2 separate regions of the Homo sapiens genome follow, and region 2 is linked to region 1. A link means that fine-mapping ties the variant in region 1 to the expression of a gene that starts in the linked region. Tissue or cell type: esophagus muscle. Region 1 holds a variant in brackets; the other region holds the start of a gene. All regions are shown on one strand. Distances are from middle to middle.

Region 1 (8,102 bases):
TTCCCGGGAAGCTACCATTGCCAAAAATATGGCCTGACAGGCACCCGTCTGACAGGTGCTCCTCAAGCACCCATCCGCGGACACATGCTGAACCCATACGATGCTCTAAACGGGGCGTGCACACTGCAGCCCTCTCAGCACAGGGGCCATGCACCACCAGTTACCAGGATAATCCCTGTGGATGTCGGATTACAGCCTGCTGGGCTGGAGAAGTGGCTGCCCTCAGCAGGGCGCGTGCCTCCCCAGTCATCCCAGTCCCCCTCTGCAATGACAGAGCCCCAGGGAGCTGCAGAGAAGGGGATTTCTTCTTGCAAACAAAACCCCACAGGGAGCCCCAAGATCTAGCTCTAGTTTATTCCTCTATCCAGCAAGCATCAGTCAGACACCTTCTGCCTGCCAGGCCTGTGCCAGGACAAGGCGACACCAGACCCTGTCCTCCGGCCACATCAGGGAGGGGTTGGCGAACAAGGGAAGGAACAACAGGAAGGTGCCAGTGGAGAGGCCAGGCGCGTGCCATGGCGGTGGCAGTCCTCCTTCCTGCAGATCACCCAAAGCCAAACAGCAAGGAAATGCAGGCGCGGGGAAGCAAAGCCAGGAGCCCCTGATGCCCATGCTGTTAGCCACCCATCCACCTGGGTGCAGAAGATGCTCTCGGGGTTCACACTGAGAGACAGGCTGGAGCTGGGCGATGGCCCAAGTGAGTTCGGAACAGGCTGTGGGGCAGGGGCACTCCCACATCTCCAGCAGGGCTTAGAGAACAGGCAAAAGTGGATTCCGATCTCGGCAAGGCAGCGAGTATCCCCTCCTTGGAGGATAACCGAGCCTCTCTGGGGAACTCCTGGGGTGGTAGACGGGAGAGGAGATTTCTCACCGGAGGGGAGACCAGCCTGCTGTCCTGGGCTCGGGAGCAGCTGAAACTCCTTTTGGGGAATGCTCTTGGGAGCTGATTTATAAGGCACAGGAAGAGCCCCGTGTGGTGCAGCCCCACCCCGCTTGTGTCCAAACACAGCCTGTTGCTGTGGACACCCTCACCTCGCTCCTGGCCCAGGGAGGGGCGACTTGCCAGGGCACACAGAGCCCCCTACCAGGAGCCAGCCTGATCCCTGACCTCTGACCCTGGGAGCATGTGGGAGGTGCTGGCTGAGGAAGCAAAACTGCCAGTGTGGCGTCCATCACACTTTCCACATGTTTTAGCAGCAGGGTGTTTGTTTGTTTGTTTGTTTGTTTGTTTAAGAGACAGGGTCTGGCTCTGTTGCCCAGGCTGGAGTGCAGCGGTGCGAGCATGGCTCACTGCAGCCTTAAACTCCCGGGCTCAAGCGCTCCTCCTGCCTCAGCCTCCAGAGTAGCTAGGACTGTGGCATGTGCCTCCACAGCTGGCTTAGCAGCAGATTTTTTCTTGCAAACAAAACCTCACAGGGAGGAACTCCAGGTTAGAGAACTAGCTTATTCCTATACTAGCAAGCATCAGCCAAACACCTTCTACGTGTCAGGCCTGCACAGGACAAGGTGATACCAGGCCCCGTCCTCCGGCCACATCAGGGAGGGGTCAGTGAACAAGTCAAGGAGCGACGGGAAGATGCTGTGAGCATGGCCAGGCGCGTGCAGGGGCAGCGGCTGCTTCCCCTCCCTGCAGAACACACCACCTAAGAGAGACACTGCTCATAACTGGAGATCAGCAACATGCCCAGTTCACAGAGAGGGAAACAGAGGCACGTTGGGAGCAAGTAACTGCGGAGGGGGATCAGTTATAGAAGGAATGCAATGGGATGAGGCCCAGGTATCTACCCAAAAGAATTAAAAGCCAGGACTTGGCTGGGTGTGGTGGCTCACGCCTGTAATCCCAGCACTTTGGGAGGCCGAGGTGGGTGGATCACGAGGTCAGGGGTTCGAGACCAGCCTGACCAACATGGTGAAACCCTGTCTCTACTAAAAATACAAAAATTAGCTGGGCGTGGTGTTGGGCGCCTGTAGTCCCAGCTACTCAGGAGGCTGAGGCAGGGGAATTGCTTGAACCAGGGAGGCGGAGCTTGCATTGAGCCGAGATCGCGCCACTGCACTCCAGCCTGGGTGACAGAGCGAGACTCCATCTCAAAAAAAAAAAAAAAAAAAAAAGCCAGGACTCAAACAAAAACTTGTATGTGAACACGCGTAGCAGTGCTGTTCACAATGACCAAAGCCAGGAAACACTCAAATGTCCGTCAACCATCACTGGATGAACAGACAAAGAAAAGGTGGCACATCTCAGCAGTGGAATAGCATGCAGCCATGAAAAGGAAGGACACTCTGATCCAGGCTGCAGTGTGGACGATTCTTGAGAAAATGAGGCTGAGTGAAAGAAGCCAGACACGACAGACTGTATATCACATGATTCCATTTATACAAAATGCCCAGAGTGGGCACATCATAGAGATGAGCACAGATTGTTGGTTGCCAGGGCTCGGCGGGAGGAATGGGGTTTCCCATTTCGGGTGATGGAAATGTTTTGGAAGCAGAGGTGATGGGGCTCCACCCTGTGAATGAAGGCGGGTTGCATACTTTAACATGGTGAATTTTGTGTTATGTGCATTTTTTCCCGAATAAGAACAGGACGCCGCTGTGGAGGGGAGAGACCGCTCACGGGGACTGGATGGCCAGGAAGCCACTGCTGTGTGCCAGGCCCCTTCCAGGCTTGGGGTCATGCCCCCTCATATTAGGCATGGCCACCACCACTGACTGTGGTCCTTGGAATGCGAGTAGAAGAGATGAATGTGATGGACACTTCAGGGACAAAGCTTTTAGGAACTGGTGCCCTGTTCTTCCACTCTCCCCCACCACAGGGGACCTGAGGCCTTGTGTTGAGACAGCACCGGCTGCAGGCAATGGCGGAGCCTCTGTCATTCAGGTCCCCGAGCCACCAAGGAGCAAGAGACCCATCCCCCACCACACCGACCAGCAATTCATGGCGTGAGCGAGACCCACACCTCCATCAATAAGGCCACAGAAGAATCAGGGGTGTGTGTGGCTGCAGCAAACCCAGATGGTCCTGGCCACCCACCTGCCCTGAGGGGCCAACATTTGAGCTCGGCCCTCAATGAGGTGAGCAGTGACCGGCCTAAAGGAAGAATGCTCCTGGCCAAGGGAGGAGCAGCGCGAAGGCCCCACAGCAGATGTGTGCCTGGTGTGTTCAAGGACAGTCAGGGGCCGGCAGAACCCGCAGTGGGAGGCACAGGCTATGGGGTGAAGCACTGTGCTTCCTCATCAAGGGGTGGGAGCCCCTGACGGTTTTCAGCAGGGAGGGATGCAATCAGATGTGGGCTCTAGGAGGACACTCTGCCATGTGGACACTGGGTACTTTGAGAAGCAAGTGACAGAATCCCAGGCTTCCCAGTGAGGAAATTTAGGAACTCACATAACGGGAAGTGCAGAGGGACTGTGGGCTCCAGGACAGGGTGACCACACCCAGCTGTGCCTCTCTAAGATTTTCCCCACCATCATTCTCAGGCAGGTTCCCCTCATGCTCACAAAAAGGCTGCCTGTCTATCCGGGGACAGGAGGGAGCTCAGAACCCACAATAAGCCTCTGGTCACCTGTCATTGGCCCAAAGCTGGCTAGGCTAACCCACCCTAAACCAATCACTGGCCAGGAGGAAGGGTAGCCAATCTGTGATTGGTCAGCAGTGACAATATAAAAGCCTCACAACCCAGCCATACAGAAAAGGCTTTGGGAGCTCAGACCCTCAGAAAGCCCAGCTCCAGCACTATTCAACCACTCGCCATAACTCCCCACTGCCTATAGGGCAGAGCACAAACTCCTGAGTATGGTATTCTAGGCTCTGTGTCTCTAGATGATTTCACCCTTGCAATGACCCTGAGAAGTTAATATGATTACTCCCTTGAGAGATGAGGCAACCGAGGTATGGGGAAGTTAAGTAACGTGCCCAAGGTCACTCAGCCATCAGGTGGTGGTGGCAGGACTCACACTCAGGCAGTGGCCCAGAGCCTCCTCTGCCCACACCGCCAGCATCTGACCAGCCCCCTCCATGGACGGCCATGGTATTTCAAGCCGCTGCCTGAGGTTTTCCCTGCGGGTCCTGCCGTTCACTCCATGGCAGGCACGTTTGCTCCCTGGTCTTCACAGAAAACCAATTCGGGCGTCCCCCACTCAAAAAGCCTTCCTGGGCTCACTCCACTTAGCAGCCTGAGGCCTCGCCTCAGCACTTCCCCTGTCCTGAGTGACCTCCAAGGCCTCGCCTGTGGGAACGAGAACGAGGACGAGGCTGGGAACAGGGCGACCTGAGACACTGTGTGGAAAGGACGCCCTGAAACCCCCATGGTCCCTGCCCTGTCTCCAGCCTCCCTGCCGCACCTGCAGTTTCTGCTGATGGCCCCAGTGTAAACACACCAAGGCG[C/G]GGGGAGAAGAAGTGTCAGCCCAGCCTTAAACAAACCTGCTCAGCCGGAGATGGGGAGCAGGCTCGCAGGCAGCATGGGCTCTGGCTGGAGGGATTTGGATGGGATTTAAGCAGGACTTGGTTTACAGAGGGAAAAAATAATTATCTACAAGGCCTCGGATAAAGTAAAGCCCATTTGTTCCTGAGTGAATGAAGGAACACGTGGAAACTGACGATGTCTACCTGGGACTGGGCTCAGACAGTTACTCAATGTGAGCCCAACTGGAGGCTGGCCGTGGGAAACAAGTGGGCTGACCCCCTGTATCCACTCGAACCGGCATCTCAGTGTGTGCGCAAGAGCCAAAGGCCGGCTCAGGCACAGCCACCCTGGCAGCACATCAGAATCATGGCAGAGTCCTTAAAATGCTGTGACCGGCCGGGCACGGTGGCTCACGCCTGTAATCCCAGCACTTTGGGAGGCCGAGGCAGGCAGATCATGAGGTCAGGAGTTCGAGACCAGCCTGGCAAACATGGTGAAACCCTATCTCTACTAAAAATACAAAAATTAGCCAGGCATAGTAGCGGGCACCTGTAATTCCAGCTACTCAGGAGGCTGAGGCAGGAGAATTGCTTGAACCCTGGAGGCGGAGGTTGCAGTGAGCCAAGATCACGCCACTGCACTCCAGCCTGGGAGACAGAATGAGACTCTGTCTCGGAAAAAAAAAAAAAAAAAAGTGCTGATGACCAGGTCTCTGCCCAGACCATTAAAGTCAGCCTCCCTGGGCCAGGCCCGGATGTCTGTGTTTGATGGGAACTCCCGGTGATTCTGATGCACAGGCAGCCATGGGCACACACGGGCTCACTTGACCCCACACAGCCACGGACCAGACCCAAACCACAACTGTTGCCTCATTTACTCCTCACACGGCCCCAAACATTGCTGTCCTCACTATGCAGATGGGGAAACTGAGGCACAGGGAGGCTAAGTAACTGCTTCTGGTGGGAGGCGGTGGGGCCCGGGTTGAGATCCAAATTTGCCATCCCAAAATGTCCCCATCACCCCGTTGATGAGTCATTTTTTGTTGCCTCCTCCCTCAGATCAGGGTCCCCAGGGCAGATACTGTCCTCATCAGACCTGCAGTCCTCAAGGCTGTGTCCTGCCTCCTGACTTGCTCCACAGGCGCCTGTGGGGAAGGGGCTGTGTGCTGGCATGGGTGGTCCTGGGTCTGAGTCCGGACTCTGCCCCCTGCCAGCTAGGTGGTCGGGGGTCCGCATCCCACGCCTCTGAGCTACAACCCCTGGGCCCCTTGGTAAGGGCTGGGTCCTGGCAGGCTTCAGGGTGGGGCGGGGGCTGGTTCCTGGGTCTGGGACTCTGGGGGAGGCAGCTCTGGTGGGCAGGGAGGTGTTTCACCCCTGCCCTGCCCCTGCCCAGGTGGAGGACATGACACATTAAGTATTCCCCCGGACGGTGGACAGTGCTGGGAGGCTTCCCTCACCCTGCCTGGCAGTCCCAACCAGATGGACCCAAATGCAGAGTGAGGAAGTGCAGAGCCCATGGCCCAGCTCCCAGCAGGAAGAACACTGAGCCAGGGGCAGCCTGGCCCTGAACACTTGTGGGACTTTGGCAATTACTATGCCTCTGGGCTTCAGGTTCTTCATGGATAAATTAAGGAGTCTGGACCCAATCCAGTCGGGGCCATGTTGCCTGCTCTGCTGGTCCACTGGGCCGGTTGCCCAGAGGGCCGGGGAGGGGGTGTCCATCCAGGCTCCTGGGGAGCAAGAGCCTCATTGATTGGTGACGCCTGCCCAGGACCAGCCAGGGATGAGGCAGGCGTGCGCCAGGGCTTCTCTCCTCCTGTCACCCTGCACCCACAACCTGGGAAGGGAAGTTGGCATTAAGCTACACATTTCTGCCTCTACTGATGTACAGGCCTGATGGTGATATGCAAGTGACTGAACAATTAGAGAGCAGAGGGGTTTCTGTATTAAAATTTTTAAATAAATTAATAATAAATACAAATCAGTGGAAAGAAGAAATTAACAGTCACCTGCTTTCTCCCGCCCAGAACTAATCCTTGCTAATGTCCTGCGAGGGTTGCTTCCAGTCACTCCAGGCAACTTTTTGCTGTTCTTTAAGGAAGAAAAGGACGTATGTTTATAGAACGGCACGAGCTCACCGTAAAGATGTCAAACACGGCCAGGATGTACAAAGGTGAAGGATGAAAGCCACCGGGACGCTGCTGCCTGGAACTAACCCCACACGGTGGTGGCCGGCCCCCCGGCAGCCTTCTCTGCCAGGGTCCTGGAGAAGGACAGATAGACACATGGTCAGCTGGACAAGTGAGGCGGATCTTCCACAATCCATTTCTCTTTGGATGTTGATGGGGCTCATCTGAGGCCCATCCCAGTCTCTCTGACAGAAATCTGCCCCTGAAGGAGGGTCTGGGGCATGGGGGCAGAGAAGCCCTTCCCAACAGCTGACCTGGCTCTAACTCTCCAACTCTCAGCGTGGCTTTGGGGGCTGCCTGCCCCATCTGCACTGAACGGGGCCGGACCACACCGTGGTTCTAACCCACGTGGGTTTTCAGACCCTTCACAGTCCCAATGGACCCTCATGGCACACACATGGGCAGTTGCACACACACAAAGTCTAGGGGTTCGTGAAGCCATTGGAGCTGCCCAGGACCCCAGATCCAAAACTCTGAATCAAAGGATGTTGCCCCCCCACCCACCCCAGCTAAAGGGACGAAAGATTCTAAGAGCTTCCTCTTGGAGAATATTTTCAAATGACCTGACTGTCCACCTGTCCCACACACAGGTGTCTGGTAGAAACAGAGGCTGGACTGGTGGCCAGGACCCCAGGGTCTTTGCTGGGTCTGAGAGGGCCACACCCCCTTCCCTACCCATGACCATGCCCAGTCTGCCCACTCCCCAGACACCCACAGGCGGGACACAGCAACCATCTGCTTCTAGACACGATCCCTCAGTAGCCCATCCCCAGCTGTCCTGCCCCTGCCCGCAGTGATAGGAGGCCCCACCCAGAACTGGCCTTTAGCCGTGACTCCCGCCTGAGACCTGCTGCCCCTCCCACCACCCACCAGTGGGGTCTCTCCTCCCTCCCCTCCAGGAAGCCCCACCTGCTCCTCCACCGACCGCCAACCTTAATCCCACCTGCCACACCAAGCAGGGCCTTTGGAGACGGGGCTCCCCCAGGTCTGGCTGGGGTCTGCAGAGTTTCTCACTTGCAGCCCTTGCACCCCATGGCCGGCCCTTGTGAGGAACAGCACAAGGTGGCTCCGTGCCCTGCTGCGGGGCCACTGTCATGAAGATACTGCCGTCACCACCATCGCTATCATGACGGCCAATTGTCCCTTTGTGTTTGTGGATCTGCTACCTAGTTTCCTGCCAGGCTCAAGGCTCTCACGCCCCCCACAGAGAAGGGCCTGAGTCGCAGGGTCAGGGAAGGCGCCCAGTCTGGGCACAAGGCTCATTTCCTGAGAGCAGGGTGGGGGGCGGGGGGAGTGGGGACTGGAGCCCAGAGTCCAGCTCATCAGAGGGAACACAGGGCCCAAAATCCAGACGTTCACCATGACCCTCTTCAAAAGCAGAGGCCCGAGCAGGATGGGAACCGGGGAGCTGGCCATCCAAAAGCACCCCGGCCATGGGCAGCCACCCTGCAGCCTGAGAACGTGCTTGCCCTACCCAGCCTCCCTCACCTCTTCCCTGAGCTTCAGCC
Region 2 (8,102 bases), 40 kb after region 1:
TGTGGGAGCCCTTGGGAGACGATGCTGGCCCAGCAGGGTGGGTTCTGGGCCTGTGGGGGAAGGTGGAGATGCCACACCTGAGAGCCAGCCCAGGGGTCCGTGGGGCCACAGGTGCAGGGGAAGGTGGACAGGACGAGTGGTCAGATACACTGCCCACCCCTAGGGCCTACCTGAGCCCATGCTAGGTACGTAGTGGGGCTGTGTTTGCGGGGCTGGGACCAAATCCCAGGTCCAGCCCTTGACTGTTGTGTGACCTTGGAGCAGGTGAGTTCACCTCTGTAAGCCTGTTTGCTCCTTAGTAAAACAGCCATACTCACGCTAAATTCTTGGGTGGTTGAGATGAAATTGTGGGAAAGGGACAAGGCATTCAACTTAGCACCACACACAGCCCATCTATCATTCAGCAAGCATTTATTGAGCACCTACTATAAGCCTTGGCATGGAATCAGGATGAATGAGGGACAATCCCTGCCCTCAAGGAGCCCGCAGCTGCAATCCCGGGCAGTGAGGGCCTGTCGGAAATGTAAGCTGGGCTCAACTGCCTGCTAGAGAGGTGGGGAAGGCTTTCCGGAGGAAGTGACATTTAGCTGGGTTTTGAAGGATGCGTAGGAGTTTGCATCTGGAAGGGCATCTGCTGCAGCAGGAACTGTCGGGGCAGAAGTGGAGATGCGGCTGTGTAGTGGAAGCACAGAGGCACAGGGGTCACAGGGCCTGGCCGGCTGGCAGAGGAACCTCAGGAAGGTCACCTCCCCTCTCTGGGCCGCAGTTTCCCTGTCTCTAAATGAGGATAAGCGCGCCCGCCTCCCAAATGGGACAGTGGCTGTGGCAAGCGCGGGGTGAATGCTAATGTTCCCTATTTAATTTTCCATGTTCTGTTTTGAGGCCAGTCAGGGTTATTTCTGTCCACACTCAACTATTTCCAGGCCCAGAGTCCTCCTTTCCCACAGAGGACAGCGCTGGGCCTGCCCCAGCCCACTATCTACTCCCAGGCCGTGGTGGGAGGCCAAGGGCAGGGGGCACCTGGAGAAGAAATGCAGACTCAGGATGGATCAGAGGCAGGGTGGGGACCCAGCCACCCCAGGAAGCCCAGGGCTCCAAGGGCCCCGTTTGGTGTGCCCAAGGCCGAGCAGCCCAGTTCCAAGCCCCTTTTCCAGGTGAGGTGGGACGGAGGCTCCCATGTAGTCAGGGGAAGAGAGCAGAAGCATTTACCACACCCCCCAGGACTGCCCCGCTGCTGCCCGGCCTGCCCAGGCGAGGAATCTCCCCATCCCCACAGCCACAGCCTGGTGTGCCCCACCCGGCCTCCTCCCTGTTCTCTCAGCTTCCCGGTTCCCACCATCACCCCCATTCTGGCCCAAGGGGCTGACCCTGGGGTGTGACATCAGGGAAGACAAGAGGTGGGGTTAGGGCGCTGCCTGACCTCCTACAAAACAAGCTGCCTTCCTGGTAGCCCTGGGCAGCTGGCCCAGGGATGGCCCATGGGGGCCCCGCCCTCCAGCCAGGTTACCTGCTGCTGGCCAAGAAGCTGGGGTGCTCTGGGCTGCCTCCCTGTCCCTTCTGCAAAGCCCCTGATCCCCACAACCTCTCTCCCACCCTGAGAGCCTGCCGGGGGTTCCTTCCTGGCCATCCCTGGGCTCAGCCTCCTTGTCGTGGGGCACAGGATTGGGTGGCAGGAAAGAACAGGGGGGGCTGGGGCTGGGGCACAAGGGGGGCAGGGAAGAGACACAGAGTGGAAGGTGGGGAGGGACAGGCACAGCTGGAGACGACAGTGTGTGGGGGCTCCGGGCAAACACATCTCACCTCCAGCCCGTTCTGAGCAATCCATCAGTGTGGCTGCCCCTGGAACGTGCGGGGGCACCAAGGCGGAGTTGCAGAGGCTGTTACTGATATGTGTCGTGGGGTGAGTCGGGGTGGGGGACGCATATCCCCACTCAGAACTCTGCATCGTAGATCCCATGCGTCTTGACACCTTCGTCTGCTAACATCTAGAAACCTTAGCATTTGAGAACCTTCAGATCCAAGGGTTCTGAGAGCTTAGAATTGTAGGATTTGTGAATTCTAGAAACAAAGGCAAGAAGATCACCCGTAGGGTGTCTCCTCTGCTCATGCAGCCTGGAGGGACCTCTCGGTGATCCCCGGCCGACCCCTCCCCAGCACTCAGCCCAAGAACCAGCCTCAACCACCTCCCTTCCCAGCTCAGCCTCACCTGCTGCCCAACCTGCAATACCTCCTCCCATCTCCCATCCTCAGACAGCCCATCCCTCCTGCAAGGTCCAGTCCGAAGTCGTCACCTCCCCCAGGAGGCCCACCCGTCCTCCTCAGCCCAGCCTGACTCTCAGGATCAGGCTCACCCTGCGGAGGCTGAAGCCACCAAGTCATAGTCCCAGTCCCAAGGGGAAGACAGGCCTGGAGCAGGGAGAGGTGTGGGCAAGAACACAGCCTCCGTCCCACAAAGAGGAGTTCAAACCCCCGCTCCAGCCCAAATGGCCCGGGCAGTGCCCTCACTCGTCTGCTTCAGCAGCCTCACCCGACTACTCACGATGGCTGCAGGTGGAAACTGCCCACGCATCTCTCAGCAGCTGAAAGGATGACTCCACAGTGGACGATTACTCAGGTGTAAAAAGGAGCAAAGCACTGGCACATGCGATAATGCGGAGGGACCTGAAGCCACCGTGCTAAGTGAAAGAAGCCAGACACGAAAGGCCACATGGTGCTCACACCTCCAGAGATGTCCAGAACAGGCAAAGCCAGAGACAGAGCACAGACGTGCTAGCCAGGGCTGGCTTCCTTGGAGGCTCCCAAGGAGAATCTGTTTCCCTGCCTTTCCAGCCCCTGGGGGCCCCCCTGGACTCCATGGCTATGGCGGCGGGTGCCAAGGCCCTGCAGCAGGGCACGACCACCAGGACCCATTGGGAATTGGCATCTGACTCCCTTCCACCACCCCGGGTGCCCCCACTTAGGAAGAGCCGACTCTCAGCAACTGTGCCCAGAGTGGCCTGGCCCATCAACCATGTGCCCCCTCAGCCTTCCTGCAGCCATTCAGAGACAGCAGTAAACACTCCTCCATCCCAGTGTGTGGGCCCAAAGCTGAGATCCCAGCCCAGGTCTCCCAGCTCACAGCCCTGCCCAGGGCCATCCTCCTGCTAGACGTCACCACATCAATGAGCATCTACCCCGTGCAAGGAAGAGGCCGGCGATGGGGTCCAGGTGAGGGGACAGCCAAGCCCACCAGGCGGTGGCCTTCCCTCACCTGCCCATTCTGGGCTAGGTCAGCTCTACCTGGAGCCTGAGCCCAGGCCCCTCCAGTGCCCTCTGCTGACTGCAGCAGACTGACCACCCTGGAGACCCTCCTGCCCCTGCCCCGAGACCCTCCATGCCACCCTGCCTCCAACCTCTGTCTTCTGCCCCCATTGCCCCTTCATGGTCCTGCAGGCCGCCCATGCTCTGTAAATCCAGCCCACCTGGGCACCCCGTGAGACCTCGGACCCGTCACATCCTGGTCCCTCCTCTTCCCCCACCCCCACATCCGACTGGCACTCCCTTTGGGCAGCTCCATCCGGTGGTGTCCTCTCTGAGTCCCAGGGCCTGCATCGGGTGGTGTCCTCTCTGAGTCCCAGGGCCTGGCACTCAGCAGGCCCTGGGGACATCAACCAGGGGCCCTTGAAGCTGTGTCCCTGGACACAGTTTCCCTGCCCCAAGCCCTGGCACATTCGGCCCAGGCTTGGCAAAAACTCCTTGTCCTCCAAGGACTCGGCTGCACCAGCCACTCAAATAAATTGATGTTCCCATCTCTGCTGACTCATGGATGAGAACATCGGGGCTCCTGCCAATGGCCACACACACCCCCAGCCCCACCAGGGAATAGCCCTGCACCCTGCAGGGACAATGTCATGAGCCTGAGAAGCCACCAGCTTCCCCTACTCCGTGAGCACCAAACTCCAGCCTGCTTGAGCTGTTGGGGGCCCCCTGCCTTGGCACTGTTCCTAATAGAGCCTGGGATCTTGTTTGAGCCCTACAAGGAAGCAAGGACCCCAGGCATCATCTTACAAACAAGGAAACTGAGGCTTGGGGAGGGGAGGAGCTTGTGGGTCCAAGTTCCCTGCCGGCTGTAACACTGTAGGAGTCAGAACCTGGCCAATGCCTGGAGGGGGCTTCCTTGGCCAGGGCTGAGCCTCAGGCTGCCCCCACCCCATCTCTCCCCCACTCCCATTGCATATGGAAACCAGAAAATCAATCCTAAGACCCCCAGCCAAACGAACGGACCCTCGTCTTGGCTAAGGACATTCCAAAGTGAACCTGAAAAGCGAGTTCAGGCCACGGTGGGAAGCGGGAGACGGACATACCTTGTTATCCCCCCTCCCTTTTGGAATGACTGGCAGAACAGTCTTTCAGTCTGATAATAAACATCTCCCATCCATTCTCTCTGCAGTCTGCTGCCTGGAGGCTTCATCTGCATGATGAAACCTCGGTCTGCACAACCCATTATCTTAACCCAGACATTCCTATCTACCGACAATAACTCTTTCAACCAACGGCCAATCAGAAAATCTTCGAATCCACCTATGACCTGGAAGCATCCCCGCTTCCGGTGGTTCCGCCTTTCTAGGCGTAACCAATGTACAGCTTATGTGTATTGATTGATGCCTTGTGTCCCCCTAAAATGTATGAAACCTAGCTGTGGCCCGACCACCTTGAACACATGGTCTGAGGGTCTCCTGGGGCTGTCATGGGCCCCCGGCCATTCATCTTTGGCTCAGAATAAATGTCTCAAACACTTTACGGAGTTTGACTTTTTGTTGATATATACGTCCAGGGAGGCCTCACTGCAGACTTACTGGGCCGCAGGGGCCTCAAGGACCAATATGGCCCCTCCTCTTGGAACAGACGGCCCCAAGCCAAGAGGACTTGGGGACCCTGTGGCCCAAACGGGTCATTTCACAGAATGGGAGACGGAGGCCCACACGGGGAATGGAGGAGAGCGAGGTGGAGCAAGGCCCTTCCCAGCCCTGGGCGGCCCCTTGACCCTTTTGTTCCCCCTCGCTGCCAGGCCTGTGACTGGGTGGGCCTGGGTCTGCAGCCCTACGGGGACTGGAGGGACAGCTGAGTGAGCAGAAGGTGCCTTGTGGCCAAGGCACAGAGGCGTCAGGGCCCAGCTGTGTTCAGCAGGAAGAAGGTCTGTGAGTGGAATATGGGGGTGCAGCGGGGTGGGGGGCGGCCAGCCTGCAGCTCAGATGCTGCGCTGGGGCTCCGGCCGTGACCACGCTCAGCCTCTGTGTCCTCCCCGGTAAAGTGGGAGGAATCGCCTTCCACACAGGACTCGGGGCTGGGTGAGGGCTGGGCGGCCACCACCACCTGCCCTGGGGCAGCAGGAGCTGCAAAGCCAGGCTCAAGGCCTGGGGGAAGGAACCCGGCGCTGGGTGCCCAGAGTCCAGATGAGATGGGTTTGGGGGGAAGGAACCCGGTGCTGGGCGCCCAGGGCCCACATGAGTTGGGTGTCGGAGGAAGGCAACCCCACCCAGGCCACCCCAGCCAGGGCTCAGGGACTTTGCCCACATGTTACCCTCTGGATCTTTCGGAACATTCTGCTGAATAAAAACTGGATTTAAAAAAGAGGCCAGGCACGGTGGCTCATGCTTGTAATCCTAGCACTTTGGGAGGCCAAGGTGGGCAGATCACTTGAGGTCAGGAGTTCAAGACCAGCCTGACCAACATGGTGAAAACATGTCTTTACTAAAAATACAAAAATTAGCCAGGTGTGGTGGCACATGCGTGTAATTCCAGCTACTTGGGAGGCTGAGGCAGGAGAATCACTTGAAATCTGGAGGCAGAGGTTGCAGTGAGCTGAGATTGCGCCACTGCACTCCAGCTTGGGCAACAGAGTGAGACTCCATCTCAAAAAATAATGAAAAATAAAAAAGGTATATTCTATGAAACTCTATTTGGGGTGTGATCTCGTTTTTAACAAGTATTTAAGAAGTAGGCTGGTGCAAGGTGTTTCTAAATGCTTCACAGTGTTATCTCTAGCAAACATTTCATCTGACGGTCTTTTGAATGAGGAGCTCCTGAACGTTCGGCAGAGGAGGTGGAACAGAAGAGAGAGGGCAGGCAGGGGCGTCTCCCTTCTTATCAAGGTATGACTAAGGGCACAACCTTATTTCCAAACAGAACAGTGGACAAACCGGGAAAGGGAGAGTCTGGAGAGATGAAGCGATACTATTAGTGCGGCTGACATGTCAATCACGGGGCTGGCACCGTTCACAGCTCTGAGGCTGCTGGATCTTTCCTGCCTCTCACCTCTGCTCTGCTCAGGCAAGCCTAGCCAGGCAGGGACTGGAGTTGGGGGCTGTTTTCCAGTTCACAGAGGAAGTCACAAGGCCCTAGGACACTCAGGGCCTTGGGAAAGCCAGCCAAGGACCAGAACAGATGTTTCGGCCTGACAGCACCTACTCTTGGGTTAAGCATCACCCTCGGTTTGAAAAATAGAAGTGAGGCCAGGAGTGGCTCACACCTGTAACCCCAGCACTTTGGGAAGCCAAGGCGGGCAGATCACTTGAGGTCAGGAGTTCAAGACCAGCCTGGCCAACATAGTGAAACCCTGTCTCTACTAAAAATACAAAAATTAGCCGGGCGTGGTGGCCGGCACCTGTAATCCCAGCTATTTGGGAGGCTGAGGCTGGAGAATTGCTTGAACCCAGGAGGCAGAGGTTGCAGTGGGCTGAGATTGCACCACTGCACTCCAGCCTGGGCGACAGAGCAAGACCCTGTCTCGATAAATAAATAAATAAAATTTTAAAAATAATAAAAAAAAAACAGGCTAGGCACGGTGGCTCATGCCTGTAATTCTAGCACTTTGGGAGGCCACGGTGGGCGGATCACTCAAGGTCAGGAGTTCAAAACCAGCCTGGCCAACATGGTGAAACCCTGTCTCTACTAAAAATACAAAAAATTAGCTGGGCGTGGAGGCGCACACCTGTAGTCCCAGCTACTCAGGAGGCTGAGGCAGGAGAATCTCTTGAACCTGGGAGGTGGAGGTTGCAGTGAGCTGAGATCGTGCCACTGCACTCCAGCCTGGGTGACACAGCGAGATCCCATCTTAAATAATAATAACAATAATAAAACAGAAGTGGGTAGGGCACGGTGGTTGACACATGTAATCCCAGTGCTTTGGGAGGCTGAGGCAGGCAGATCACTTGAGCCCAGGAGTTCAAGATTAGCCTGAGAAACATAGTGAGACCCCGTCTCTACAAAAATAAGTAAATAAATTAGCCAGGCATAGTGGTGCCCACCCATAGACCCAGCTACTCAGGGGCCTGAGGCGGGACGATTGCTTGAGCCTAGGAGTTCAAGACCAACCTGGGCAACATAGGAGACTTTGTCTCTATAAATAATTTTTAAAAATTAGCCAGGCCTAGTGGTACACCCCTGTAGTACCAGCTACTCAGCAGGCTGAGGCGGGAGGATTGCTGGAGCCCAGGATGTTGAGGCAGCAGTGAGCTGTGATCATGCCACCGCACTCCAGCCTGGGCAACAGAGCAAGATCCTGTCTCTAAAAAGAAAAAAAAAGAAGTATTCGTAGGAGGATCACAGAAGACCCCCAACACCCTGGTGATGTCACCCTGAAGTCCAGGAGAGCCGAGGCTGAAGTCTCGAGGGGAAGGACCCGGCCTCGATTGGGCCGCAGCCTCGGCGCTGGAGCCAGGTCTAAGACACTGCTCTCTATCACGCTGGGTTCCCCCTGCGGTGCTGCACGGCGTGGGCTGGGCACCCCCTCTGGGATCAGTTTGCTCCCTGCAGGATGACAGGGTGGGCAGGGACATGTATGGGACTCACCACCCACAGCAGGGACCCAGGTCCTTCCCCGTCTGGCTGGGGTCAGCCTGGGAGGGGCAGGGTTCCGCCTGCCTGATGCATTGCCTCCTGCTCACCACCCCCAAGCAACACTCCGGTCACTTCTTACTTCCATACCAGGTCTTCGCACTTGCTATTCCCTCTGTTTCCCATGCCTTTCCTCAGGAGAGCTCCTATGCCTCCCACACACAGCTGGGCCGCCGTGTGGTCTGGGAAGCTGTCTCTGAGCAGAGGCAGCCACTGTGCCCCAAGCC

Alleles and levels. Positions count from the first base shown, and alleles are read on the strand shown. Sizes are in standard deviations (SD) of each study's normalised expression.
For the expression in esophagus muscle of the gene that starts at base 4,467 in region 2, allele G in region 1 goes with a lower level than allele C (moderate effect, 0.53 SD a copy in GTEx).

The links. PIP is the estimated chance that this variant, and not a neighbour inherited with it, causes the effect.
Region 2: LINC01300 starts here. The variant in region 1 is fine-mapped to the expression of LINC01300 in esophagus muscle (GTEx, PIP above 0.99). The same link has a PIP of 0.9 or more in gastroesophageal junction.

What each region holds. Positions count from the first base shown.
Region 1 is chr8:141,376,488-141,384,589 of GRCh38, reverse strand. It overlaps LOC101928037 (a long non-coding RNA gene), which reads right to left. Exons shown (of 3, transcript XR_007061125.1): 2 at 6,544-6,668; 3 at 2,281-2,510. Among named protein-coding and RNA genes, the nearest start is that of PTP4A3, 11 kb to the left of the region's middle. RefSeq lists enhancers at 1-467, 7,261-8,035, 8,036-8,102. The variant C/G (reference allele first, on the strand shown) is at 4,388.
Region 2 is chr8:141,336,914-141,345,015 of GRCh38, reverse strand. It overlaps LINC01300 (long intergenic non-protein coding RNA 1300), which reads right to left and starts at 4,467. Exons shown (of 4, transcript NR_024441.1): 1 at 4,344-4,467; 2 at 2,540-2,675; 3 at 1,801-2,058; 4 at 395-672. RefSeq lists an enhancer at 2,343-2,843 and a silencer at 5,992-6,286.